Linked DNA regions of Homo sapiens. The protein of the gene in region 1 purifies or fractionates together with the protein of each later gene. This does not show direct contact. Each region holds a gene or a part of one and is shown in the gene's direction. Other genes may lie near its edges.

Evidence for each region.
Region 2: the proteins of COQ7 (region 1) and GLUD1 purify together in Homo sapiens (co-immunoprecipitation; one large-scale study listed by IntAct). This does not show direct contact.
Region 3: the proteins of COQ7 (region 1) and ALDH1L1 purify together in Homo sapiens (co-immunoprecipitation; one large-scale study listed by IntAct). This does not show direct contact.
Region 4: the proteins of COQ7 (region 1) and ECH1 purify together in Homo sapiens (affinity purification with mass spectrometry; one large-scale study listed by BioGRID and IntAct). This does not show direct contact.
Region 5: the proteins of COQ7 (region 1) and AARS2 purify together in Homo sapiens (affinity purification with mass spectrometry; one large-scale study listed by BioGRID and IntAct). This does not show direct contact.
Region 6: the proteins of COQ7 (region 1) and BOLA3 purify together in Homo sapiens (affinity purification with mass spectrometry; one large-scale study listed by BioGRID and IntAct). This does not show direct contact.
Region 7: the proteins of COQ7 (region 1) and PITRM1 purify together in Homo sapiens (affinity purification with mass spectrometry, with the first as the bait; one large-scale study listed by BioGRID). This does not show direct contact.

What each region holds. Positions count from the first base shown.
Region 1 is NC_000016.10:19,066,116-19,070,413, forward strand, and holds the start of COQ7 (NADPH-dependent 3-demethoxyubiquinone 3-hydroxylase, mitochondrial), read left to right. Parts: upstream 1-1,498; 5' UTR 1,499-1,549; coding exon 1,550-1,622; exon of another isoform or gene 1,623-1,715; intron 1,716-1,791; exon of another isoform or gene 1,792-1,893; intron 1,894-1,901; exon of another isoform or gene 1,902-2,115; intron 2,116-2,531; exon of another isoform or gene 2,532-2,732; coding exon of another isoform or gene 2,733-2,763; intron 2,764-4,298. UniProt on the Homo sapiens protein: Catalyzes the hydroxylation of the 5-methoxy-2-methyl-3-(all-trans-polyprenyl)benzoquinone at the C6 position and participates in the biosynthesis of ubiquinone.
Region 2 is NC_000010.11:87,074,263-87,078,056, reverse strand, and holds part of GLUD1 (glutamate dehydrogenase 1, mitochondrial isoform a precursor), read left to right. Parts: intron 1-1,400; coding exon 1,401-1,481; intron 1,482-2,033; coding exon 2,034-2,089; intron 2,090-3,442; coding exon 3,443-3,506; intron 3,507-3,794. UniProt on the Homo sapiens protein: Mitochondrial glutamate dehydrogenase that catalyzes the conversion of L-glutamate into alpha-ketoglutarate. Plays a key role in glutamine anaplerosis by producing alpha-ketoglutarate, an important intermediate in the tricarboxylic acid cycle.
Region 3 is NC_000003.12:126,156,473-126,160,266, reverse strand, and holds part of ALDH1L1 (cytosolic 10-formyltetrahydrofolate dehydrogenase), read left to right. Parts: intron 1-91; exon of another isoform or gene 92-184; intron 185-1,627; coding exon 1,628-1,862; intron 1,863-2,758; coding exon 2,759-2,924; intron 2,925-3,794. UniProt on the Homo sapiens protein: Cytosolic 10-formyltetrahydrofolate dehydrogenase that catalyzes the NADP(+)-dependent conversion of 10-formyltetrahydrofolate to tetrahydrofolate and carbon dioxide.
Region 4 is NC_000019.10:38,818,125-38,821,854, reverse strand, and holds part of ECH1 (delta(3,5)-Delta(2,4)-dienoyl-CoA isomerase, mitochondrial precursor), read left to right. Parts: intron 1-3,730. UniProt on the Homo sapiens protein: Isomerization of 3-trans,5-cis-dienoyl-CoA to 2-trans,4-trans-dienoyl-CoA.
Region 5 is NC_000006.12:44,303,276-44,307,069, reverse strand, and holds part of AARS2 (alanine--tRNA ligase, mitochondrial), read left to right. Parts: exon of another isoform or gene 1-38; coding exon 39-147; intron 148-537; coding exon 538-576; intron 577-678; coding exon 679-790; intron 791-1,283; coding exon 1,284-1,417; intron 1,418-1,871; coding exon 1,872-2,016; intron 2,017-2,252; coding exon 2,253-2,425; intron 2,426-2,536; coding exon 2,537-2,650; intron 2,651-2,748; coding exon 2,749-2,889; intron 2,890-3,646; coding exon 3,647-3,784; intron 3,785-3,794. UniProt on the Homo sapiens protein: Catalyzes the attachment of alanine to tRNA(Ala) in a two-step reaction: alanine is first activated by ATP to form Ala-AMP and then transferred to the acceptor end of tRNA(Ala). Also edits incorrectly charged tRNA(Ala) via its editing domain.
Region 6 is NC_000002.12:74,141,294-74,145,087, reverse strand, and holds part of BOLA3 (bolA-like protein 3), read left to right. Parts: intron 1-2,727; coding exon 2,728-2,816; intron 2,817-3,794. UniProt on the Homo sapiens protein: Acts as a mitochondrial iron-sulfur (Fe-S) cluster assembly factor that facilitates (Fe-S) cluster insertion into a subset of mitochondrial proteins. Probably acts together with NFU1.
Region 7 is NC_000010.11:3,141,551-3,145,344, reverse strand, and holds part of PITRM1 (presequence protease, mitochondrial isoform 2 precursor), read left to right. Parts: exon of another isoform or gene 1-374; intron 375-978; coding exon 979-1,053; intron 1,054-1,358; exon of another isoform or gene 1,359-1,489; intron 1,490-1,569; exon of another isoform or gene 1,570-1,843; coding exon 1,844-1,956; intron 1,957-2,256; exon of another isoform or gene 2,257-2,373; intron 2,374-3,575; exon of another isoform or gene 3,576-3,744; intron 3,745-3,794. UniProt on the Homo sapiens protein: Metalloendopeptidase of the mitochondrial matrix that functions in peptide cleavage and degradation rather than in protein processing. Has an ATP-independent activity. Specifically cleaves peptides in the range of 5 to 65 residues.

The sequences.
Region 1 (4,298 bases):
TTTGAGACCAGCCTGGCCAACACAGCGAAACCCAGTCTCAGCTGGGCGTGGTGGTGTGTGTACCTGTAATCCCATCTACTTGGGAGGCTGAGGCAGGAGAATCGCTTGAACCCGGGAGGCAGAGGTTCCAGTGAGCCAAGGTCTCCCCACTGCAATCCAGCCTGTGCGACAGAGTGAAACTCCATTTAAAAAGAACAAAAACAAAAAACAAAACAAAAAGGAAACAGAGACCTAGAAGTGGTATTACAGCAAAGGTTTTGAACATTTTAAGGCTTTTGAGCGCCAGATTCAGACACTCAGTAGTTTTACATGAGAGTGCTACAACATCCTCACTAAGTAGTATTTGGGTTCATCATAATTTTAAATTATTTTGGTGTGTCAATTTGAACACTAGAGTGATATAAAAACTAAAAACTTGAATTCAATAATTTTACAATTGTATTCCATCTTAAAATATTTTATGGTAAACTTGGATAAAGTATATAAATAATCCAAGGGTGTAAAGTAGAAAGTGAAAGCTCCCTTCTCCCAGTTCCAGCCCCCTGATGTTGCCAATATTAAACGTTGTATATCCTTGCAGACACGCATCTTTGATTTTTGCCCTCATGTACATTACTCATTTAAAAATTATTTCGTTGAGTAGATTCCTAAAAGTAAGACTGCTGTATTATATGATCTTTTTAAAGTATGTTGCTAAATTTCCCCTCCCTTCTCAAAAAATTCCAATTTGCACAAATATACATGCATACATGCACACAGTACATTAAGGTGGATACCAAGGATAAAACATGTTCTCTGTTTCTGAAAATAGAGAAAAGACCGGGAAGAAGTTTAAAGTTGGCTTTCAGCCCACCAATAGAGATAACACTATATAACACCATTAACCATGTGGTGCATGTAATTTAGATATACATATAATTTTATTTATTTATTTATTTTTCAGACAGGGCCCAGGCTAGAGTGCAGTGGCAGAATCACGGCTGACTGCAGCCTCGAGCTACCGGGCTCAAGCTATCCCCCCACCTCAGCCTCCCGAGTAGCTGGGACTACAGGTGTGCTCCACCAGACCCGGCTAATTTTTAAAATTATTTGTAGAGGCGGGGTCTCGCTATGTTGCCCAGGCTTACTATTTTAAAGTAGATGTAGGATACAAATAAAAAAAAAAATCTCCTTCCACGTAGGTAAAGCAGGAAATACCGTGCCTTGTTAATAAGTAATTCCCTCATGATCCTTTTCCCCAGGAACTTGGGTGAGAAATCATAACCTTGTCCTGATCTTTCTAAACAGCAATTTAGCATTTTCATCTCCCTGGCAACCCAAGGCGCCTTGGCCTTGGTCTTCCGAGTGATTGACAGTGACCCCACCCAATAAAATCTTTTTATTTGTCGTATCTAACCAATCTAACCCCTAGCGCAGAGCTAGGGGGCGTTCCCACCGGTGCGCGGGCGAGCTGAGCCTTCCTTACGTCTGCTGTGCGTCATCAGTCCGAGCCAAGGGCACTATTGGCCAGTTCCGTTCAACGAAGTGGTTGCTTTTTTTAGTTCCGGCAATGAGTTGCGCCGGGGCGGCGGCGGCTCCCCGCCTTTGGCGGCTGCGCCCGGGGGCCCGGCGGTCCCTCTCAGGTAAAAGGAGGCGCGCAGTCACAGTCCTGCGCCGGTCTAGCGAGCTAGGGAATTTTCGCTTGAGGTTTGGGTCGAAGAGGTCACGGGGGAGAGGTTCGTAACGTCACAGGCCTGCGACGGAGCGCGACTGCGTGACTTCGGCCTCCGGGGCGCTGGCGGGCGGGGCGGGGTCTGTAGTTAGCGGCGAGAGTGACAGGAGGACAGGGGTTGTTTCGGCAGTGACGCCTGGGGAGTGACGCAATTGCACCCCTGTGCAGTGATGTCACGGCAGGTGCGGCCAGCGTTCCGAGTCGAGGACAGTTGGCGACACTGAAAATTCAGCGTCTCCGGGAGTCTCTCTCTTTGTAGTCTTTGCCCAGGGCCTTGCCAGGCAAAGGGTAGCCCGACGACCAGCAGCCTCCGCTACTTCTGGGCGCTCGCTAGAAATACAGATTCTCGGGCCCCACCCCGACCTACTTGGTCGGTATCTGTGATCTGTGAACAGGACCTTTAGGTGATTTGCATGCACTGTAAACTGTGAAAGCCATCAGTGTAGTGGAAGGAGCATCGAATTTAGAGTAGAGAGACATGGTTTTGGACCCTGGTTCCTGCTTTCCTTGTTTCATCTGTGCTGCCTTAGAAAATTGTCATGAGCCCGGGCGCGGTGGCTCCGGCCTATAATCTCAGCACTTTGGGAGGCCGAGGCTGGAGGATCCCCTGAGGTCAGGAGTTTGAGACCAGCCTGGCCAACATGGTGAAACCCCGCCTCTACTAAAAATACAAAAATTTGCCAGGCGTGATGGCAGGTGCCTGTAATCCCAGCTACTCAGGAGGCTGAGACAGGAGAATCGCTTGAACCCGGGAGGCAGAGATTGCTTTGAGGCGAGATTGCACCACTGCACTGCAACCTGGGCGTCAGAGCGAGACTTTGTCTCCCCCGCGCAAAAAAAAAAAAAAAAAAGAAATTTCATGAAGTCGTTTTCTCAACGTTAAATTACCGTGTACCACTTTCGGGATTTTTGCCTAATGGCAGTACTGCTTGAACTTTTGATTACTAGATGTGTTTTTTTGTATAGCTATGTCCCATTTAAAAATTAAATTAATTTCCTTGAAACAAAATCCTTATGGTGAATGGGAAGCCAGTGCCACTTGCCACAAATGGGTGAGTAATCATTAAAAAAAAACAAACAAATTAAAAAGTTATGAAATTGTATTAAATACTGTCTTTCTGTTACAAAGGGGAAATTAGCAAGTGTTGGGAAAGTGTTAAGGCTATACCAGCTGTAAATGGAGTTATCTTCCTTAATGAAAGAGATTGCAAGAGATTTTGAAAGAGTACCCCTTACTACATGGGGTTATTTGCTGCATATCCATAAGCCACTTAATATTTTGTAGGTACCACACTGGCATGTTTCACACTTTGGGAAAATATGGACATAAAGTGATGCATTTGAGAGCTAGCACCGAGCCTCAATTTTACTTTAAAGTATATGGTAATGCAGGCAAAACTCCGAGGGTTGTTGAATGTGAATTTTAATGCTGCTCTGTTCAGCCAGTGAGCATAACAGAATAAGACTCATTTCTGTTTATAAAGTTACTTTGCTTCTTATATCTTATTTTATCCTCATAACTCAGTAAGAAAAGTTTATTATTGTATGTTTTCCCTTAAAAAGGAAAGAGCCTGATTATTGCCTTTTTTTTTTTTTTTTTTTGAGGCAGAGTCTTGCTTTGTCGCCCAGGCTGGAGTGCAGTGGCGCGATCTCAGCTCACTGCAACCTCCGCCTCCTGGGTTCAAGTGATTCTCCTGCCTCAGACTCCCGAGTAGCTGAGGCTGCATGCATGCACCACCACGCCTGGCTAATTTTTGAATTTTTGGTAGAGACGGGGTTTCGCCATGATGACCAGGCTGGTCTCGAACTCCTGACCTCAAGTGATTCTCCCTCCTTGGCTTCCCAAAGTGCTGGGATTACAGGCGTGAGTCGCCGCACCCAGCCAATTTTATATGTAAGAAATGTCGATCCTGATTTTCCCAAGGCTAGTGTTAGAGATGGGACACATGTTTTATGCTTCTTTTTTTCTTTTTTTGAGACAGAGTCTCACTCTGTCACCGAGGCTGGAGTGTAATGGTATGATCTTAGCTCACTGCAGCCTTTGCCTACTGGGTTCAAGTGATTGTTCTGCCTCAGCCTCCTGAGTAGCTGGGACTACAGGCACGTGCCACGATGCCTGGCTAATTTTTATATTTTTGGTAGAGATGGGTTTTCACCATTTTGGCCAGGCTGGTCTTGAACTCCTGGTCTCAAGCAGTCCACCTGCCTCAGCTTCCCAAAGTGCTGGGATTACAGGCATGAGCCACCACACCCGGCCTATGCAGTCTCTTTAGTCAGATATGCTCAGTGAGATGGAGAGGATCATGGCGAGGAGTAGACCAAAGCTGGGTCACTATGCTTCAGAACTTAGGTCCACGCTTCTTTGTTAAAAGTGTGACATTTACAACCCCATCTGGTAGAAGATTTCAAGTTCAGAGCCACCCCAAATTTCACCAACCCACCTCACTACCTTGTGTCCAAAGCACTCAAGCCTTTGTCATGAAAGAACCACATATGTATCTAAAATGAATTTTTTCCACATATTCGCTGGCTGTTGAAGTTAGCCTAAGTGAAAAGAAGTTTGCATAAAAGACATGGTAGTCACGGC
Region 2 (3,794 bases), on another chromosome or scaffold:
TAAGGTTGATGTTTTCAGAAACATGTAAGAAAGCTAGCTTTTAAAATTGACTAGGGAAGTTCTCTCAAACTGCCAGTCCATGAGATATTGTATATTTTCTATCTGAAAAACTTTTAATCTCAGAATTCTTTAAAAGAGCTCTCCCTGGGGCTCCCATTACTTACTTGTGACTCCCAGTGGAAATCGTACCCAGCCCCTCGAGAGGGGCTGAATCTGTTGGGAGTGGGAGGGTAGAAAAAATGCTGCAGCTTCTTGTGGGTATCCTTCACACACAAACACCCAGTGCCCCAAGCACTGTGCAGTCAAACATCAACCCCACTCAGACTTTCCTCCTTGGGATTGAGAAGCAATGGATTATAGAGAAAGAAAGGTGGATTAGCACTCCAAAACTTTGAAGAGTAATTGACCAAGACCCCCAAAGCCAAAGCTGTGGGCATCCCCACTTCCAGTATACCCTGTACCAACACGTAATGGCTACTAGATACAGGGGCACTAGTACCTACCTGTCTGCTTGGCTACCTGCCCTCTTTGCAGAAGTGGTGAAGGGAATCACTCAACCTCAGAAAGGGAAAATGGCTTTCTCATTTTCAGATTGAAAGAGGTTGGCAGTGGGTGAGGAGAATAACAGGTAAGGATCTCTTTTAATATACCCATTTGAAGCCAAAACCTCTGTTTAGACATACGGTATTTTGAACCTGGTGATTATTCATTGCCCATGTTTGTGAATTATCAGAAAGCAGAATTCTTGCCAGGCATAGTGGCTCATGCCTGTAATCCCAGCACTTTGGGAAGCCAAGGTGGGAGGATCACTTGAGCCCAGGAGTTTGAGACCAGCCTGAGCAACATGGTGAGATCCTGTCTCTACAAAAAATTCAAAAATTAGCTGGGCATGGTGGTGTGCACTTGTGGTCCCAGCTACTCAGGAGGCTGAGGTGGGAGGATTACCTGAGCCTAGGAGGTTGAGGCTACAGTAAGCCATGTCTGTGCCACTACACTCAGCCTGAGCAACAGAGCAAGACCCTGTTTCCCACCCCTACCCCCCCAAAAAAAAGCAACCTGAATTCTTGAACTCCCTGCAACCAGGTCACCCAAACCAAAGGTAAAAGGAACATAAAAAAGCCTTCTGGAAAGTGTACAGAAATTCATTGCAGGGTGATTTTTGTCTTGTGAAATCATAGTTACTGTTATTAGCAGGTTTTTTTAACGTTTTATATTCATTTTTCATGGTGTTCTGATGTACAAGCTGCTTCAAGTGTTTTTGGACATAGCTTGGATGTAAAATGTAAAAAGTGGATATTTTCAATTTGTAGCTTTCTTTTTTGAAGCTTACTTAAGTTTGTTCTAAATATAACCCCTTCTTTCTCACCCACCCCAACACATTTTTTTAAAAACACCACCAGGTATCCGTTACAGCACTGATGTGAGTGTAGATGAAGTAAAAGCTTTGGCTTCTCTGATGACATACAAGTGTGCAGTGGTTGGTAAGTGATCGCCTTTCTTGCTGCCTAATGAGAACTCTGGGGAAATATGTTTACACACATGTTACTGTTAAGATGCTGTAGAAATATACCTTATCAGAACTGATTTTTTTTCAAGTTGTAATCTTTAAGACCTGCATCATTTTTCAATTAGTCTAAATTAAGATATAGCCTTTTTTTTTTACATGGGGGATTTTTTAAAATAGGAGATAATTGGATTTTAAGTCTAGATCTTTGTTTTCAATTCCTCAACACATTCTGTAAATAAGACCAAATTATAGTAGAAGGAGAGTAAATAAGCTATTATCTTTTAGAAGTGGTAAAGAGCACTGATTAAATATATATTAGAACTTGGCTAGCCAATTTTATTGAACAATTTCTGTTCAACAAAATGTTGTTTAAAGTACAGTTTAGAAAATGATGGTAGGTTTATTTCTTGAATTTTCAGAAATTCAAGCTTAAAGCATCACGTTTCTCTAATATTGTGTGGTGCTTTCTGTCATTTTACTTTTTTAACATTTATATGGAATAGCAACCATCAGCCTTCTCTTTCAGATGTGCCGTTTGGGGGTGCTAAAGCTGGTGTTAAGATCAATCCCAAGAACTATACTGTAAGTATGAAAGTGATATTTGTTTTTTATTGTTGTTGTTGTTTTTGTTTTTCTGAGACAGAGTCTTCCTCTGTTGTTCAGGCCGGAGTACAATGGCGCAATCTTGGCTCACTGCAACCTCCGCCTCCCGGGTTCAAGCAGTTCTCCTTGATCCAGTAACTGGGATTACAGGTGCACGCCACCATGCCCGACTAATTTTTGTATTTTTAGTAGAGAGGGGATTTCACCATGTTGGCCAGGCTGTTCTTGAACTCCTGACCTCAGGTGATCCACCTGCCTTGGCCTCCCAGAGTGCTAGGATTGCAGGCATGAGCCACCGCACCCGGCCTCAAAGTGACATTTGTGCACACAGTGCATTTATGAAGGACTTGAAATTACTGGGCTTCTCTGTATCCCCCACTATCAGTGAGATCAGTAGTCCCCATTGCTTTTCAAATGGAATAGAAAAATGTAAAGAATTAACTCATAGCGTGTTTTGCCATATAAAGATCACCTACTTAATATCTATATCCTTTATCATTTTCTGTTTCATTTGGTTTTGTTTTTATGAGTCTTTTGTTTTACTTTTTTGCTTTTTGTTTTATTATTTTCTTACTTAGTTAAAACGTAATTAATATCTTCACTTATATACTTATACCCATATTTATATAATGTCTTCACTTAGACACTTATACCCATATTTAAGAAATACTGTGATCTGATTAGCCAGGCATAGTGGTGCACACCTGTAATCCCAGCTACTCGGGAGGCTCAGGCATGAGAATTGCTTGAACCCAGGAGGCAGAGGTTGGCTGAGATTTCACCACTGCATTCCAGCCTGGGTAACAGAGCAAGACTCTGTCTCAAAAAGAAAAAAGTATTACTGTGATCTGAAGTTTTTATGTCAGGATCTGATTCTAGTGACACATATCTTAACTAAGACTATAAAAACCTTACTTTTTATCCAGTCAGTTCCAAGTTAATTCAAACTGATTGTCACAATGCTTTACATAATACTAAATTATCTATATACAAACATAAATGCATGATTTTTATTCTCTTTAAAATTCACCATTTAAATGGAATATAATTATATTTAAATTAATCTTAATTAAGATTTAGTGTATTTTTCAGTGGGGAATTAATAGAATGGGAATTTGAGCCCTAGTTCTACTATCTTGTTTTTATAACCTACTTTTTTGATCCCTTATTTTGTCACCTTTAAAATGGCAATGCCTACTTTATGAGTTGTTCTAAGGATTACATGAGAAGACATATGAAAATGTACTATAAATAGAAAATAAGATGCTAGCTATAATCTCAAGCGATTTTTATATCAATTTTTTCTTTTGTTTTTGTTTTCTTATTTTACAGGATAATGAATTGGAAAAGATCACAAGGAGGTTCACCATGGAGCTAGCAAAAAAGGGCTTTATTGGTATGTGTAGCCACATAGTTTTTGGTATAAAGTGGGAACATCTAAAAATTTTTTTTTTTTTTTGAGACGGAGTCTCACTCTGTTGCCCAGACTAGAGTGCAGTGGTGCGATCTCGTCCGCCTCCTGGGTTCAAGCAATTCTCTTGTCTCAGCCTCCCAAGTAGCTGAGATTACAGGCATGTGCCACCACACCCAGCTGATTTTTGTATTTTTACTGGAGATGGGGCTTTGCCATGTTGGTCAGGCTGGGCTTGAACTCCTGACATCAGGTGATCCACCCATCTCGGAC
Region 3 (3,794 bases), on another chromosome or scaffold:
AAAGAAAAAAACACAGAGAGTACTAAGCGCACCCTGAGAGTTTCGGATTCAGAATGAGGTGGAAAAGTCAGAATTAGGTGAAATTGTTAACCTGGGACAAGTTCCTGGGAGATACTGGCATCTCTTGTACTAGGAAAAGCACGTTTTGAGAATCATGGGTCTGGGTCACTGCCTTTGAGCTGGGAACCTCAGCAGACAGGATGCAGGGGCCTCAGCTTGGATGAACAGACCCTCTAGGAACACTGACTGGTCCTTCTCAGGCCTGATGGAGACAGACTGTGGGGCAGGGCTTAAGGATAGAGGGCCAGGATTAGGAAAGGGGGCTTGTAGGCCTGGCCAGGCACAGAGGTGTAGTTTGTTAAGGAAAGCCAGTCTCCCTCAGTGGGGAAGCTGCAGCCTGGCCCTAGAATCAACTCCAACACTCAACACCCAATGCCAGCCAGGCTTCAGTCTTGGACCTGACCACAAGTGACCCATGACATACCCTGACCCCACCACAGCCTGGGTCCTACACCCAGCCACTAAGTGACCACTGACCCCAGCTGCTGACCCTGGACCCAGACCAGGCCTGGCTGGGACTCCTACTTGGCCTTGATCTCAGATGTCCTGAAGCAGTATTTCATTGGTCACTGTGGGACAGCTTTTGCAAGTGCAGTCCAATCTGCTGACATCACATCCCACCCTCTCTCAAAACTACCAGACACCAGGACAGAGTGACAGAGGAGGAGACCGGAGAGGAGAGCCAGTCCAGTCAGGGCCCAAACATCACACCAGAGGCTCTAACAGAGAACTGAATACAAAGAAGTGTTCCTTGGGTATTGAAGAGTGGAAGGCAGAGAGCCCAAAGTTATTGGGGACAGCGACTGCAGGAAGCAGCTGCCACTGTAAGGCTAAGATAAAGGAGGACGCTTTAACTATAAAAACTTGGGAGCTTGGGCCTGTAATCCAGACCTGTGAGGAGGGTGTGCTGGTGACGGGGCAGGAGGAGGGGCCCTGCAGGCTGTATCTGGTCCTCTGGGGTGTGTGTGTGTGTGTGTGTGTGTGCACGCATGTGTGCATATTGAGGCTAGTTCTGCAGATGATGGAAAAACTGATTTAGCCATTGCTCTGAGAAGGAACGACTGTGACTGGGATGAAGAAGCTGGGCTGGGGGAGGCTCACAGGACAGGAACCCACTGGACAGAAAGGAGTGGGGATGCCCTGTTGCCCTTCTTCCCCTTCTTCCTCCATCAGGGAACAGCTGACAAAGCAGAAATGCCATCTGCAGGGGGGCAGTCCCCATCACAGAGTGAGCAGTAGAGGGGGCCGGAAGACAGTAACTCAGTGACGGGGATGGCAAGGCCTCAGGAGAGGAATGAGGGCAGAGGTCAGCCATCTGGGTTCTGGAAGAGGGAGGCACTCAGAGGTCCTGGGGTTCAGCAAAAGTCAGGATGCAGGCAGGGCAGTCCCCAGAGCCTCATGCTTGGCTGGTGCATCCGTCTGTGTTGCCCAGTGGAGCCTGGCTGGGGTGTGGGTGAGGGGGCAGGAATGGAGAGAAGTCCTATGAGCTGCTCTGCTGGGAAGGCAGAGGTGGCTGCGTGTGGGTGGGTTATGGAGAGGGGCCAGTTTCTTATCCACCGTCCCACAGGTCTGGAAGCTGAGAAGGATGGAGTGCCGGTATTCAAGTACTCCCGGTGGCGTGCAAAAGGACAGGCTTTGCCTGATGTGGTGGCAAAATACCAGGCTTTGGGGGCCGAGCTCAACGTCCTGCCCTTCTGCAGCCAATTCATCCCCATGGAGATAATCAGTGCCCCCCGGCATGGCTCCATCATCTATCACCCGTCACTGCTCCCTAGGCACCGAGGGGCCTCGGCCATCAACTGGTGAGATGGGGCAAAAACACAGGGGGCCATCCCCATACATGTCCCTCCATCAGCCTGACTTGTCACTTTCCATTAGCCCAAAGCATTTCTAGGGCTGCAGAGTGGGCATCGTGCAGGTGCCTGTCCTGTGGCTGCCAGATGTCAGCCACAGAACAGGCTGTGCAACGTTATCAATGAGTGAAGGCTCTAGAGCACTGGGAGCAGGTGTTGCTAAGCACTCTGCATTCCCACAGTTATTGGAGAAGCTGGCACTGTCAGTGTTCCCATCCCCCAGCTGAGACAGAGAGGGCACCAGAAGGCGCAGGGACAGAGAGGGCACCAGGAGGCGCAGGGGCCAGGGTGCCACCCCAGGCGGTGGGCTGGGGGTCCTACTCTAACTTCCACTGCCGCTGCTCTGGGCAGCACACTTCGTAGAAAGAGATAAAGATGGAGCAAAGGATGGCCTCCACAAGGTACTCTGAGGGGACAGAATTCCCAAGACAACAAATGGGGTGACAAGGCAGATGGGTGGTCAAAGAGGGAAGACATTTGAGTTGAGAAAAGAGAGTGGATTTGTAGTCGGACTGGTCTGTTGAGATTCAGGCTCTCTGATCTTTGTGGGTGTCGCTTCACTTTTCTGGGCCTTAGTTTCCCTATCTGTAAACCGAGTATACCTGTTATCCCTGCTGTGAGGACTCAGTTACATAAGGCATATAGAGCTTTTAGCACAATTCCTGGCCCATGGTTGTTATCAATACATGCTGTTTTCCTTCTTCCGTTTCCCGCCGGAGCCGGTGTCAGTCCTACCCCTGGGAAGAGAGGGCCTCCTGGAGGGTGGCAGGTCCACGGGCCTGTACCCAGGACATCCTCCGTGGCCCTTCATCGTGGACTCCAGGTTTCACTCTTCTGCTTCCTAGGACCCTCATTCACGGAGATAAGAAAGGGGGGTTTTCCATCTTCTGGGCGGATGATGGTCTGGACACCGGAGACCTGCTGCTGCAGAAGGAGTGTGAGGTGCTCCCGGACGACACCGTGAGCACGCTGTACAACCGCTTCCTCTTCCCTGAAGGCATCAAAGGGATGGTGAGGACCTGGAGCCGGCCGCGCCCTGCCCGCCCCGACGCACCCTCAAGCATCCTCCCTAGACCCAGCCCACCGCTCCTGGAGGCCAGGAATCTGTTCCCCAAATTCAGGATTCTGGAGGGAGAGGAGCTCTCACTTCAAGGTTTCAGAGGCAGGATTAGGACAAACAGTGTATTGTATTAGGAGGGAATCTTGCTCACAACGGACAGAACCCAGCTCAAAAAGCGTTTGGCAAAAAGGGGACATTTTGGGGCCCGTTCAATAGACAAGGAAGGCTAAAGGCAGGGACTGGGTCACACCCTGCTGAATCCAGGAGCTTCAATTATGACATCGTTAGGATTCTATTTCTCTCTCCTTCACTCGTTGATTCTCCTTTTCTCTGTGTGATTTGTTTCATTCTCAGTTTGGCTGCCCTGAATTAGAGGAAAGATAGCCACTATAGCTCAAGGATTCTAATTCTTGATTCCAGGGAAAGAGAAACACTTTTTCTCCTAGAATTCATCAATCACAAATCAGGGGAGATTCTGATTGGCCAGCTTGGGGGTCATGTGATCCTCATGAGCCAATCACCAGCTGGGGTGATGGAGTGCTCTGATAGGCTGTCTCCGTCACATGCTTCCTGCTGGGAAGGCCGTGACCTGTGGTCACATGGCCTGAGCGGCAGGGCGGCTCAGTCACCTGGGCAGCTGGTACTGCTGAGAGGCAGGGTGGCAGGCTATGGGCCGGAGCCCACAGCTGCAGGAGGGGCCCGGGGATCATATGTGAGGGCTGCTTGCCCCTGCCCGAGGACAGGCTGGCAGGGACGGCCACAGGCAGAGGTGCTGTCCAGGCATGCAGCAGGAGGGAAGGAGGCCCTGGGGAGCCCTTGCT
Region 4 (3,730 bases), on another chromosome or scaffold:
ATGGGACCAGGCGCCGCCGAGCAGGGGGTGGCGCTCCTCGGGGAGGCTCGGGCTGTGCAGGAGCCCACGGCGGCGGGGGGAGGCTCGGGCATGGCAGGCTGCAGGTCCCAAGCCCTGCCCCACAGGGAGGCAGCTGAGGCCCGGCAAGTATTCGAGTGCAGCACCAGCGGGCCGGCACTGCTGGGGGACCCGGTGTACCCTCCGCAGCTGCTGGCCCAGGTGCTAAGCCCCTCACTGCTCAGGGCAGGTGGCGCCGGCCCACCACTCCGAGTGCGGGGTCGCCGAGCTCACACCCACCCGGAACTTGCGCTGGCCGGAGAGCACTGCGTGCAGCCTGGGTTCCCGCCCGCGCCTCTCCCTCCACACCTCCCTGCAAGCAGAGGGAGCCGGCTCCGATCTTGGCCAGCCCAGAGAGGGGCTCCCATAGTGCAGCAGCAGGCTGAAGGGCTCCTCAAGCATGGCCAGAGTGGGCTCTGAGGCCAGCGAGCAAGGGCTGCCAGCATGCTGTCACCTCTCACTTCCTTCTCTCTCTCTTTCTTTCATTTTTGAGACAGGGTCTCCCTCTGTCACCCAGGCTGGAATGCAGTGGAGCAATCTCAGCTCACTGCAGCCTCCACCTCCTGAGCTCAACCCCTCCCACCTCAGCCCCTACCACCTCCCCTCATCCTCCCACTTCAGCCCCTCAAGTAGCTGGGACCACAGGTGTGCACCACCATGCACAGCAAGTTTTTTCACTTTTTGTAGAGGCAGGGCTTGCTATGTTGCCCAGGCTGGTCTCGAACCCCTGATCTAAAGCGATCCTCCTGCCTCAGCCTCCCAAAGTGCTGGGATCACAGGCATGAGCCACCGCACCCAGCCTCCTGCTTTCTTTCTGCATCTCCCTCTGTTCCTCCTCTTGTTCATTTGTTCATTCATTTGACAAACATTCAGTGACACAGTCCAGTGCCAGAGCCCCCTCCTGGGTGCTGCAGATGTGGAAACGGGAAGCAGCCCCGATTCCTGACCCCTTGCTCTCATAGAGATCATGTCTGAGAACAGAAAAATGGGGCTTTTTTGTGGCTGTGCCGGGCCCAGGTCCTTCATCTTTCAGCTCCCAGCTGAATGTGGCCGTCTTATCTTATTTTCAGCAGCAAGACCCCGAAGGCCAGAAGGAAGAAACGGCAGGTCATGCAGTGACCCAGTGATAGAGTAGAACTACTAATTAGAGAAAGAAAAAGGTGGCCACAATTATGTAGCACTCATGGTGTGTGACGCCCCTTTCTAAGCACGTTAAACATATTAATTCTAATCACAGTCCACAAGACAGGTTCTGCTATAAGCCCCATTTAAAGGTGAAACAGATCCAGAGAGCAAGAAACTTACCCAATAATCACAGCTTGTAAGTGGCAGAGCTGGGATTTTGGAACTCATGCTGCCTGGCTATAGAGTCCTTGCTCTTAGCTGCTAAATGTCTGTCATCTGAGTAGCTGGCATGCTGGTTAAAAGTAAGGGGGATTGCCGGGCGCCGTGGCTCACACCTGTAATCCCAGCACTTTGGGAGGCTGAGGCAGGCGGATCACGAGGTCAGGAAATGGAGACTATCCTGGCTAACACAGTGAAACCCCGTCTCTACTAAAAATGTAAAAAATTAGCCGGGCATGGTGGCAGGCGCCTGTAGTCCCAGCTACTAGGGAGGCTGAGGCAGGAGAATGGCGTGAACCCAGGAGGCGGAGCTTGCAGTGAGCCGAGATCGCGCCACTACACGCCAGCCTGGGCGATAGAGTGAGACTACATCTCAAAAAAAAAAAAAAAAAAAAAAAAAGTAAGGGGGACTTTGGCCTCAGGCTGTGATCTGGATCCTATTTCCACTTGTCTTTTCACCTCTCTGTCCTGCCATTTTCTTTTCTTTTTATTTTTTATTTTTGAGCCAGGGTCTTGCTCTGTCGCCCAGGCTGGAGTGCAGTGGCGCGATCATAGCTGACCGCAGCCTGCAACTCCTGGGCTCAAACGATCCGCCCACCTCAGCCTCCGAAAGTGCTGGGATTACAGGTGACCATGCCCAGCCTCATGTGCAGCTAATTTTTTCATTGTTTGTAGAGAAGAGGTCTTGCAATGTTGCCCAGGCTGTTCTCAAAATCTTAGCCTCAAGCCATCCTCCTGCCTCTGCCTTCCAAAGTGCTGGGATTGCAGGTGTGAGCCACTACGCCCAGCCCCAAAATATACTTTTTTATTCATTTGTTTGCCTCCCCATGAGGACAGGGACTGTTGTCTGTATTGATCATTTATTGAGCAGCTCGTGTGCGCCAGGCCCTGTGCTAGGCCCAGGGGATGCAGCAGTGGACAGAAAGACAAAAACTCCTGTGTTCTCAGAGCTCACATTCTAGAAAGGGAGTCAGACCCTCAAGCAGATAAGGACCTAATTATAGGATAGCAGCTGTGCAGCCCGGAGGTAAGGCGGGGTCAGGATGCGGGGGATGGGGCCATCGTTGAGCCAGGTTGGCCAGGGAGGGCCTCTCTAGGAGGTGACCTTTGAGCTATAGCTGAAGGAAGTGAAGGAGTCAGTCTGTGGCTGTTGAAGAGGGAGGGATGGTTGTCAGCCCAAAGGTCCTTGGCTCCCTCCCTCTCCTCTGGGTCTTTACTCAAGGTCACCTTCTCAATGAGAAGATTCTGTACCACTGCACAGCCCTCAGGCAGTGATCTGGATCCTATTTCCACTTGTCTTTTCACCTCTCTGTCCTGCCATTTTCTTTTCTTTTTATTTTTTATTTTTGAGCCAGGGTCTTGCTCTGTCGCCCAGGCTGGAGTGCAGTGGTGCGATCATAGCTGACCGCAGCCTCCAACTCCTGGGCTCAAATGCACGTGCCCGCACACACACACACACACACACACACACACACAGAGTTGGAGACCAGTGTGCCCAAAGTAACAGGTTGGGAACAGTGCACACACACACACACACACACACACACACACAGAGTTGGAGGCCAGTGTGCCCAAAGTAACAGGTTGGGAACAGTGTTCATGCAGGGTAGTCATGACAAGGACGTTCCATTTTGTTCTAAGAGCCACAGGTGGGAAAAAGAGGGTCTGGGCCGGGCACGGTGGCTCACGCCTGTAATCCCAGCACTTTGGGAGGCCGAGGTGGGTGGATCACAAGGTCAGGAGTTTGAGACTAGCCTGGCCAACATGGCAAAACCCCGTCTCTACTAAAAATACAAAAATTAGCCGGGCATGGTGGTGGGCGCCTGTAATCCCAGCTACTTGGGAGGCTGAGGTAGGAGAATCACTTGAACCGGGAGGCGGAGGTTGCATTGAGCCGAGATCCTGCCACTGCACTCCAGCCTGGGCGACAAGAGCGAGACTCTGTCTGAAATAAAAAAAATAAAATAAAAAAAAAGAGGATCTGACCCAAGAAGGTGTCCACTGGCTTCCCCTGGCTGCCTGTAGGGAATAGACTGGGGACACAGGTGGAAACAGGGAGAGCAGGGTGGGCTCATGGAGAACAACTGATGCAGGAAAGGTCAGATTCAGGATCATCTTGAAGTTGGAGCCACAGAAATTGCTGCATCGTGAGATGTTTCTCATCTCAGGAAACATCACCACCATTGACTGCATTGCTCACGCTGCAGACCTTGAGTCCCAGGCTGTCTGGCATCTTGGGGAAAAGCATGGCCTCTGGAGCCAGCTGCATGGTTCCAGATTTTAAAATCCTACTTCTGATGCGGCATGGTGGCTCACACGTGTAATCCCA
Region 5 (3,794 bases), on another chromosome or scaffold:
CCGCTGGGGATTCATGTCTGGGCTCTGAACCCCTTTAGGCTGGTTCTTCGTCGGATCCTGCGTCGAGCTGTGCGTTTCTCCATGGAGATCTTAAAGGCACCACCTGGCTTCCTAGGCAGCCTGGTACCTGTAGTGGTGGAGACACTGGTAAGGACAGAGCTTCTTTTTCACTCTGGGCCTCCCTGGGCACTTTGGGGAGCCTACCACTGAGCCTAGACAGTGCCCCCAGCCTGGGTGCCCAGAGGTCCCCACCCTAAATATCGAGCCCAGCATCCTATCAGCAAGCTAAGAAAGCTGTCCTTGCTTACAAGAAGCAGGAGAACTTGAGGAGGCTCCTTTTCCAAACTGCTCAGCCCTTGACCTCAGGACCCCCTTCTGCCACCCTACAGGGAAACCAGTTCCCCATTTGAGTCCCTCTCCCAGCCCCTCAATGTGTCTGAGCCTCCAGGGCAGGTGTCCTCAGGGAGGCCCAGGGTGGGGAGGTGGGGGTGGGTTGGTTGCCTTTCACACCTCCTCAGCCCTCTCCACCTCCCCCAGGGAGATGCTTATCCAGAACTGCAAAGGAACTCAGCCCAGGTACTGGATTCCAGTGGGAGAGAAAGGGGTTGATGGGAGAGTTGTGGAGAGAGACCCTCCTTCCAAGGAGACCCAGCTCCACTTCTTCTCTGCCTGGTTCAGATCGCCAACCTGGTGTCAGAGGACGAGGCAGCCTTCCTGGCCTCCCTGGAGCGGGGTAGGCGGATCATTGATCGGACTCTGAGGACCCTGGGGCCTTCAGATATGTTCCCTGGTAAGCAGGATACCTAGCCCATGCACAAGGGGCTCGCTGAGACTCACCAAGGTGGGCAGAGGAGGGAGCTCTGGGCCAGCCCCATGCCTCATATCCACCCCTGACCTCTTCCCAATGTTCCTTTCTCCCTGGACTCTCCTTCCATACCCAGACCCCTCTGCAGCAGGAATACCACCCTGCCTCTCCCCATGTCCACAGTGCCCAGCTAGCCCTGCCTCCTGCTTTCCTAGGTTGGCTTCGTGCATAGACTGAGCTTCCCTCCTCCCTTGAAATGATGTGTGCCCAGGGAGTACCCTGGACTACCCCCAGCTCTGGCCTTGAGGCATGAAGCCTGAATGTGACCCCTCTCCTGAGGCTACCCAGTATGGAGCGGGTATTTGTGTTTGGCATCTGGTGGCTTCTGCGTGGTTAGAAGGGCCCTGGACCTTATTTTTCTCCCCTTCTTTGTCTAATCCCTCCCCTCCTCAACATTCTTTGTCTTTCTTTCTCAAAGCTGAAGTGGCCTGGTCCTTGTCACTGTGTGGAGACCTGGGACTCCCCTTGGACATGGTAGAGCTGATGCTGGAGGAGAAAGGGGTCCAGCTAGACTCCGCTGGACTGGAGCGGTTGGCCCAAGAGGAGGCCCAGGTACAAGCTGTGGCACCCCATGCTGGGTTCTGTTAGGACACCTCTTCCCCAGCCCTGAGCTCCTGGGGGAGGAGCTGTGAATATTGAGAGGAATCAAGAGGCTGAGATAGGATCTGTCCCCTCACCTGGGAGGTTTCTAAAACCTCAGGCCACAACCAGTAGAAAGCAAAACTAGCCAATGGGCTAAACACAGGAGCAGAAGCCAGCACAGCTTCCTGGAGAGGGGCCCTCCAGGGGCAGCAGTGGGCAGGAAGGCCTAATCCCGAGGAGCCGACATGATGGATGGTTCAACCAGCTCAGGGGCTCTAGCAGCCAGCCAAGCCCTGAGTTCTTATTCCAGAAGGGCTGCAGAGTCCACAGCTGTGTGGCAGGGACAGGGCCCTGCGAGGCTGAAGTCCCACTTTCATTCTTTCATTCTCCATGCACTTCTTCCATGCCCATGCCCACCCTGCAGCACCGGGCACGGCAGGCTGAGCCAGTTCAGAAGCAGGGATTGTGGCTTGATGTCCATGCGCTTGGGGAGCTGCAGCGCCAAGGAGTGCCCCCAACTGACGACAGCCCCAAGTACAACTACTCCCTGCGACCCAGCGGAAGTTATGGTGAGAGCCTGGACCAAGGCCTGCCGCCACAAGCTTGCCTGACCATGACTAAGAAGAATGTCCAAGATGGTTGCTGCTAGCCCCTATGTATTCCCCAGGATGGCCACCAGGGGTCTCTGTGGCCCCCAGCTGGAAGTGCCCCTGCCAGCGGGGGTGCTTGTTGGCCTCCAGGCACAGACCCACCTTCACGTCCCCAGCCCCTGCCCACCACTAATAACCATTCTGTGCCCTGGCAGAGTTCGGCACCTGTGAGGCCCAGGTGTTGCAACTGTATACAGAGGACGGGACAGCAGTGGCCTCCGTGGGGAAAGGCCAGCGCTGTGGCCTCCTCTTGGACAGGACCAACTTCTACGCAGAACAGGGGGGCCAGGCTTCAGACCGTGGCTACCTGGTGCGGGCAGGGCAAGAGGTGAGTCTCCATCACAACCCAGGCTGATTTCTGTGGGCGGCAGACCCAAGCCTGAGTGGGAGCCAAGGGGAGGGAAAGGCTACAGGCACCTTGACCACTACCCTCCCTCAGGACGTGCTGTTCCCAGTAGCCCGGGCCCAGGTCTGTGGAGGTTTCATCCTGCATGAGGCAGTAGCCCCTGAGTGCCTGCGGTTAGGGGACCAGGTGCAGCTGCATGTGGATGAGGTAAGGATCCTCCCTAACTGTTCCCAATACCCTGCAGCCCCTTCACTCTCCCAACCCCCTGCCCTCACCCAGGACGCTGGGTGACAAAAGTATTTCAGGCCTGGCGTCTAGGCTGCATGGCGAAGCATACGGCCACCCACCTGCTGAACTGGGCACTGAGGCAGACCCTGGGCCCTGGCACAGAGCAGCAGGGCTCCCATCTCAATCCTGAGCAGCTGCGCTTGGATGTGACCACCCAGGTGAGCCCGGCATAGAAAGACAGGCTTCATGTGAGGTGACAGGCATAAAAGAGAGACAGCCTGCTGTGAGCGGGTTGCCCTTAGAGTCCTGGGCTCTAGGCCCAGCACGGCCACCCAATCACTATGGGACCCTGGGCAAGTCCTTTCCCCTTGGGCTCCTTGTGCAGCAGTGAGGAGTCAGGCTACAGAGTGTCTGGGGCCTCGCCCAGCTCTGATGTGGGATCCTGAAGGCCCTCCAGCAGGGGCCTTCCCTTCACCTCCAGCCGCTCCCCTTCCTTGTTTCTACTGTCATCCAAGCCATTCTTGCCTAAACTGGGCTGCCCTCTCCCTCTGCTGCCACCCTGTCTCCCTGCGCTTCTTACACATCTGGCTTAAATCCTTTCTCCAGGAAGTACTTGCTGGCTAATCCCCATCCCACCTGCTTATTCCCTGCCCCTGCATCCCCCCATCCTGTAGTTCTCTCTTCCATTGGGCTACCCCTTGTAAGCTCCATGTGGATACAGCCTCCTTTTTCTGTTTCTTTAACTTTTGGTGCCTGGTGAAAGGCCTGGAGCTTCCAATAGGCCCAACTCCCAGATAGCTTTCTAAGGAAAATAATTGTCTGCTCAGGTAGTGTTTATTGAGCACCTATTATGTGCTAGCCACTATTCTAGAACCTGGGGATAGCTCAGTGAACATTGACCGTGTTTCAATGCATCAGTTAGAGGTGTGGGGCTGACTGCATGTTGGTCTTTCCATTTCCTCCCCACCCCTCCAGACCCCATTGACCCCAGAGCAGCTCCGGGCAGTGGAGAACACTGTGCAGGAGGCCGTGGGGCAGGATGAGGCTGTGTACATGGAGGAGGTGCCCCTGGCGCTCACTGCCCAGGTCCCTGGCCTGCGCTCTCTGGATGAGGTGAGTTGGG
Region 6 (3,794 bases), on another chromosome or scaffold:
TGGCTTCTCAAGATGTGTTGCTGCTGGACAGGTGGAGCTCGGCTGCCCCCACCTCATGGGATGGCAGTCAGGATTCAGAAATATCAGAGGGAAACTGAGGACAAGGCGCAGCTGGGAGGACTCAAGGTTGCCAGCCTGGCTCAGCTCAGACAAGGTCCCTCTCAGTCACCCTAGAGCTGAGGTCCACAGTCTGTCATTTGACTTTGAATAGGTTTTGCTCTAATTTTCCCCCATTCTTCTGACACCCTAGGATATCAGAGCTGGAGTGGACCCCAGAAAGATTTTCTTCAGCTGCTTTACTTTCCCTAAGAGGAAATGAGCCCAGAGAGGCCAAAGGAATTGCCTAGCTCCTCATAGGGAAGAGACAGTGGAACTGGAACCAGAACCGGGACTCAGGGGAGACTCTGTCCTAAGCCCAGTTACCAGCCCCAGCCAAGCGCTGTCCTTCTCAGGTGGCCACTGGCACCTAGAAGTTCAGGCTGGCAGTGTGTTAGGAGCAGGCTGGAGAAGCAACTTCTGCATCCACAGGATGGGGAAGATAGGCCCTTTATCCACACACACACACACACGTACACACAGAACGGCCCGTGGCGTGGGCCGCTGGATAGGCATCAGTCTGAATCTCTCCATACCCAGAGGCAGCCTTTGCCACTCAGCATTGCCATGAGGGCTCACTGACTTTACTGAGAACATAACATTTCCAAGGATTGAGGAGAAAGTTTAGAAAGTAGATTTTATTCTGGAAACCACAGGAAATAAATCAATCTAAAGATCTGCTGGGGTTTTGGAGCAGTGGCTCATGCCTGTAATCCCAGCACTTTGAGAGGCTGAGGCAGGTGGATCACGAGGTCAGGAGTTCAAGACCAGCCTGGCCAACATGGTGAAACCCCCCCGTCTCTACTAAAAATACAAAAATTAACTGGGCGTGGTGGCACACGCCTGTAGTCCCAGCTACTCAAGAGTCTGAGGCAGGAGACTTGCTTGAACCCGGGAGGCGGAGGCTGCAGTGAGCCAAGATCATGCCACTGCACTCCAGCCTGGGTGACAGAGCGAGACTGTGTCTCAAAAAAAAAAAAAAAAAATCTGCTGGGGCCAGGCGCGGTGGCTCATGTCTGTAATCCCAGCACTTTGGGAGGCTGAGGCAGGTGGATCACCTGAGGTCAGGAGTTCGAGACCAGCCTGGCCAACATGGTGAAACCCCATCTCAACCAGAAATACAAAAAAAAAAAAAAAATTAGCCAGGCATGGTAGCAGGCACCTGTAATCCCAGCTACTCAGGAGGCTGAGGCAGGAGAATCGCTTGAACCTGGGAGGCAGAGGTTGCAGTGAGCTGAGATTGCACCACTGCACTCCAGCCTGGGCGACAAGAGCGAAACTCTGTCTCAAAAAGAAAAAAAAAATCTGCTGGAATGGTACATCAGGTGAGGGCTCTGCAGGAGTCTTGGGGCAATGCTGAGGCCTTGATGTTACCAGGTCCTGAACTTGCCCCAGGCCCAGGGCAGAGTTAGAGCTTGACTCAGCTGTGGCTCTGCGCAGTCCTGGACAGAGTGCAGAAGGGGAGTTGAGGCTGAGAACCTGGGTTTAACCAAAACTTGGACTCCTAGAGCACATTATAAGAAAAACAGAACAGGCCAGGCGCGGTGGCTCACGCCTGTAATCCCAGCACTTTGGGAGGCCGAGGCGGGTGGATCACGAGGTCAGGAGATCGAGACCATCCTGGCTAACACGGTGAAACCCCGTCTCTACTAAAAATACAAAAAAAAAATTAGCTGGGCATGATGGTGTGTGCCTATAGTCCCAGCTACTCAGGAGGCTGAGGCAGGAGAATGGTGTGAACCTGGGAGGCGGAGCTTGCAGTGAGCCCAGATCGTGCCACTGCACTCCAGCCTGGGCGACAGAGCGAGACTCCATCTCAAAAAAAAAAAGAAGCAGAGCAAAGCCTGTTGAGTACGTTGCACCTCTCACACAATGGCCTGGCTCTGTAAATCATGCAGGGGACATATTCTTGCCCATGTTATTTCATGCTAGAGCTGTGTGTTTATCATCAGTCATCAGCACCAGCTCTCCAGCCAGGTGGAGGAAAGCTCAGGCAGGGGGTGGATGGCCCACCAAGCTCTGCCTCGAGGGCTTCACCAAAAAGTTCTCCCCCCAAAAGCCAGGATGAAATCCTGGATGCTGTGCTGTGGACCCAGCAGTGCCAGAGACAGCCCCGAGCAGCTCCATGCATAGCATGTTTGCTGTGTCCCTGGCTCTCATGCTCCCCTGGTTCTTTCCTTTCTTTGGACAGTATTACACAGTTTTCAAACCAAATTGTAGTGTATTTTTGCACTTCAAAAACACTGATTGTTGGTCCTTTGGAAGCTGGAACGCTGAAATTCCGTCCTTCTCATCCTCTTCCGTGGCGTTTATTGGCCTAGTGAAAGGAAACACTCTACACTCCCTAGGTTGTCCATGCTTTGTGCCTTATCTTTCCTGCCCACAAGTGGTAACCCTGGGTGGTGCAGCTGCCTCGCAAAAGGAAGAGCACATTTTGGATTGTGGCAGCCTGTCAGGAGGAGCATGTGGTCAGATTGGAAGCCATGATCTTTTCCTAATGGTCTTAGCAACTTTCCTTTGTGCTGAATGATAATATTCAGACCTTTGGATTGTACAGTACTTCAAGGATATATGGGACCATGGCTGCCATGACTTAATAATTGAAATGCTTTTGAATCATGTTTATTTTAGGAGGTTGTGGGGCGATGTATGAAATTAAAATTGAATCAGAAGAATTTAAGGAGAAGAGAACTGTCCAGCAGCACCAGATGGTTAATCAGGTCAGTAGAGGCAACAGTGCCCCTTGCCACTGGCCTTCAGCCTCCAAAGGGGCCTGCCAAGCAGGGATGGTGGTTTTTGCCGTCAGTTGCAGGAGAGAATAATGCAGTACTGCAATCACGAAACAGGACTCAAGACCTGAGAAAAATCGAATCTGGGAGTATCTGCATTGTGGCAAATAGGAATTTTATTCAAAATTGAAGACAGGCCTCCCAATAGTGATTTTGTATGTCCTCGTATAATGCTACCTATGTTTACTGTTATTGTCACATATTGATGAGTATATCTAAACACAGACACTGCTAAAAGATACATGTTTTTGTAGATCTGAAGAGGGGTTTTTTGGCCTCTCTTTGGGACTGCTTTACAGATGAGTCAGTTGATGCATGGCATGAGTGAGAATGGCTGCAGCTGCCCCAGACCCAATGACAGAACATTTGGGTTCTGGAACATCACGTTCAACCAGCCTAAGGCTCAGTTTAAATATTATCCATATTTATTTTAATTTGGAATTTATACCAACTTTGACCCTTGTACCTGTACCTATGAATTTGCCCCCTCACTGGGTGTGTTTGGCATCGTTCTGGAAGGTCTTGCCATTGTGAACTAGTGTTATTTTTGTAAAGCACAGCACTGGTAATGAGCGTCTCTTCGGTGGCCTCTCATGCATTGAGTTCAGGTGTCCTAGACTGCTGTTCACGCATTTCCCCCCACCCTTCTCTGCGTGCACCCTCCCAGCCGGCCTCTGCCCGCTGGTCTCTCTCTTTCTCTATCTGGGCCTTTGCCCAGATTGGACCTTCTGCCTGGGTTGCCCTTCCTCCCGTCCTCCACTCAGCTCAAATGCTGCCTCCCCTCCCTCCCCAGCAGGGAATGAATGCCGTTCCCCCACCCTCCCCGGCCCCCTTTTTTGGCTGTCGGTGTTTTCCGTCTTGTGTCCTGAAAACGGACATCTCTGCTGTCTGACCCTGCAACCTGTCAGC
Region 7 (3,794 bases), on another chromosome or scaffold:
CTGATAGGAAAACAGACTTTGGCTGGAATACGCTGGCAGAGGAATGGCCCAAACCGTAGCCTGAAGGCTGTTCACTGCTGTTTCTTTGACTCATGAATCCATGGATTTGACATGGAACAGTGATGTCGGTGATAACTAACTTAGTAAATTTGATTAACTTAGAGAGTTGTAGTCTAGTTCATGGATGTCAGTAGAGAAGCCGTGCTGCTCCGTGGAGGAGGTTGACGCTCATGTCTTCTCCGTTGGTGTCTGCGTATCCCTGGTTCAATTCTGGATGTGGTCTCTCTGTTGGCCCCTGGGAGTGGAGCCTTTGGGAGGTGGCCTCCTGCTGCTCCAGGCCCCTCTGCCTGCAACCCTTTCACCTTAAATGTCCTCTTGATTTGACAGATTAATGACAAGAAAGTGCAGAAAGAAAGGTTAAAATATTTTCTTTGTACCATATAACAAGGCTACCTTTTCCTTGACTGTCTGAAAATTTATTTTAATATTTTCTTAATTTCTTTTACTCACTTTATTTCTTTTTTTAGTTTTTGTTATTTTGAGACAGGGTCTGTCTCTGGCACTCGGGCTGGAGTGCAGTGGTGCCATTACAACTAGCTGTAGCCGTGACCTCCTGGGCTCAAGTGATCCTCCAATCTCAGCCTCCCAAGTAGCTGGGGCTACAGGTGTGCACCACCATGCCCAGCTAATTTTTAAAAATTTTTTGTTGAGATGGGAGCTCACTACATTGCCCAGGCTGGTCTCAGACTCCTGGACCCAAGCAATCCTCCCACCTCAGCCTCCAAAGTGCTGGCATTATAGGCATGAGCCACTCTGCCCAGCCTATTTTTATTTTTTTTAAGCGTTTATTATTTAAAACACTTACACCTGCCCTAACACTTGTTATTAGCTGTGTGAATTTTATAAACTCTGTTACTTCTTATATATTTCAAGTGAGTTCTGGATTTTTCTCTTTTCTCTTGGAAACTTGATTTTCAGAAACCTGTGCCCAGCAGCTCTGGTGGAGATGCCCACGTTCCCCATGGCTCCCAGGTCATTAGGAAGCTGGTCATGGTAAGAACCACAGCCCATCCGGGTTGCCAGCGGGTGGGTGCTTCCCTGCATGGCTGTGTCTGCCACTGATGTTCGAATGTTCCTCCGTCCGCCTGTCTGTGGGGCTGGCGTGTCCCTAGAGTTGCGAGTTCAGTGCATCCTTTGTCACTGCCACCCTGAGCCTTTTCTCTCTCAGACAGTACTGAGTGAAGGCCCTGGTGGGGGTGTGTCCTCCTGTGCCGAGGAGGGCCCTGGTATGGGGTGCGTCTTCCCTGTGCCCAGGAAGAGGGCTACTGCTCTGGGTGGTCTCCTCCCGGGCAACTCACCCTTCTTTGAACGTAGCTCCCGAGCTGAGTCGATGCCAGTGGAGCGGTCTGACAGATCCTTTCCGCGACTCAGCCTGGTGCTGATGCTGTTTGGTTTGGTTCCTTGTGGAGTAGAGTGATTTAACACATTCCTATGATATAATATGATATGAAATATAAATATGTAACTGTGATATAAACGGCGTAGAATGAAATGTTTTTAATTGAACAGTATACGTTAAGGCATCACGTCAAGATTGGAGGACTTCATGTCAGTTTTACAGTGAGAAATTGTGTGGAGTGACGGAACTGCAGTGCCTTGCTCTCGCGCCCCAGCACCTGGCTGCAGAGTGTCACGGAGATGGGACCCCTGAGATGGCTCCAGTCCCAGTGCCGTGGGCAGTGCGTGGGAGCACAGCCGCCTCTGACCCCTGAGTGGGTCCAGTCCCAGTGCCGTGGGCGGTGCATGGCAGCACAGCCGCCTCTGACCATACCGTGTCCCTCAGGAACCCACCTTCAAGCCCTGGCAGATGAAGACTCACTTCCTGATGCCCTTCCCGGTGAATTACGTGGGTGAATGCATCCGAACTGTCCCCTACACGGACCCAGATCATGCCAGGTAGGAGGGTGTAGGTCGGGACCTCTCAGGCCTGAGCCTTACGGAAGAGCTTGTCAAGGCTGTTCGAGTTCACAGGGCGTGTTTTAGCACAGGAAAAGTCTGTGCTGACTCTGAGTGTTGGACCTGGGGCTGTGTGAGTCTACGAGTGCTCCTCTTTAACCAGCAGTCTTTGTGAACAGAGACCCAGTTTTAGAGCCAGTCATTTTTGTAAACAATTTCTATTATTGAGGAGTCCTATGAACAATACAGATACCTATGACCTTAAACACAGACTGCTTTCAACATGCCCCATGTACTCACCTCATCTCTAGGTAAAAATCGAATGAATTTAGGCTGAGATTTCTGATAAACATGGTAGGTTAAGCCTTCATGAGGACAGATGCGTGAATGACAGCAAAGGCAGATCAAGACACGAAGCTACAAGGGAAAGAGTGGGAGGTGACCCGGAGAGCCATGGGGGCTGCAGGAGAACCTCGTGAGCCAGACTCTGGGTGGGTGGGGGGTGCCTGACCTGGGGCCACAGAGGGACAGGGCAGTGGGGAGAAACCAGGTGGTCCTGCAGAGCCCTGCAGATGGCAGGGCTGGAGGCCGCCTCACAGTCCCTCTAAGGAGTTTGTCTCCCCTGTCTCCCCACCAAGTCAGAAGCTCAGGGAAGGAGGCCCTGGGTTGAGCAGCCGAAGCCACAGCCAAGAGTCAGGGTCAGGCCTGTTCCCAAAGTGGCGTGGGGCGAGGGAGTTTGCAGCCTACAGACTGGCCCTCCAGCCCCTTCTTCCGAACTCTGGCTGCCCCTTGGCTGTGTTCATCCCATCTGGGGAAACTGGCCAGACCAGGACAGACTCACAGACGTGCACCTTTGGGGACCCGTCAGTTGGGTGTGTATGACACAGATATGTGCAAACATGTTATATCCCGGAAATTCACTTCCTGTGTCCTTGTCCCAGGCAGCTACCCCCATGAGGGACTAAACCAAGGAGTGAGCCTGGTAGAGAGGGGGAAGGCAGGCTTAGGCCTGGGCAGCCTGTCCTGATTGGAGAAGGAGCCGGGCCTCCGAGGTGCACGTGTGTCACAGAGGGTCACAGATGGGGAGGTGTGTAGGAGGCAGGCGGGAAGAAACGTGGGGCTGCAGTGGGGGCCCAGAAAGAGCTGGCTGTAGAAGTATGTGGTCAGCTGTTTTGTTCATTTATTTCCATATTTGTAGAAGATGAACAGATCTGTCTGCTATGCCGGCAGAAGAGTGGTGTCTGTTTCCACTATCCAACAGGAAAATGTAGACAGAAAACACTAAAAATGTGGAGGTTCCCCCTGGGCAGTGGGATTCCAGATCTTTTTTTCCTTGTGTTTTGTATTTTATAATCTTTCAAAAGTGAGCATGTTTTTAATATACAAGTAATAGAAATTTCTCAGGAAGGATAATGTGTGGACGGATGGAACGCCATCCCTGCCGGTGCTGGTGGAGACTCCGTCCCCCAGGGTCTGACTCCAGCCTCGCTAGTCCCGGCTGACGGCGCCCCAGCCACCCGAGTGGCGCTGGGTTTCTCCTGGAGGACCCACACGAGATGGTCGTGACTTCTCCCACCACAGCCCCTGGGAACACGCCCACTCCTTCCTTGATTTCCCACCTGGCCTATTTGACTCCCTTCATCCACTTTAGGAAAAGGCCTGTCTGTGGAAGCGGCGACCTGGGGCTGATCTCACCACGGGCGTCTTCAAGGAGCCTGTGTCTGTGCTGCAGACCCTCCCATCATTGTCTGCCCCGCCTTCTGTCGGAGGTGGATGTGTTCTAGAATCAGCTTGAATGTGATGTTACCGTTCACAGTGGAAGGCAGAGGAAATTGGCC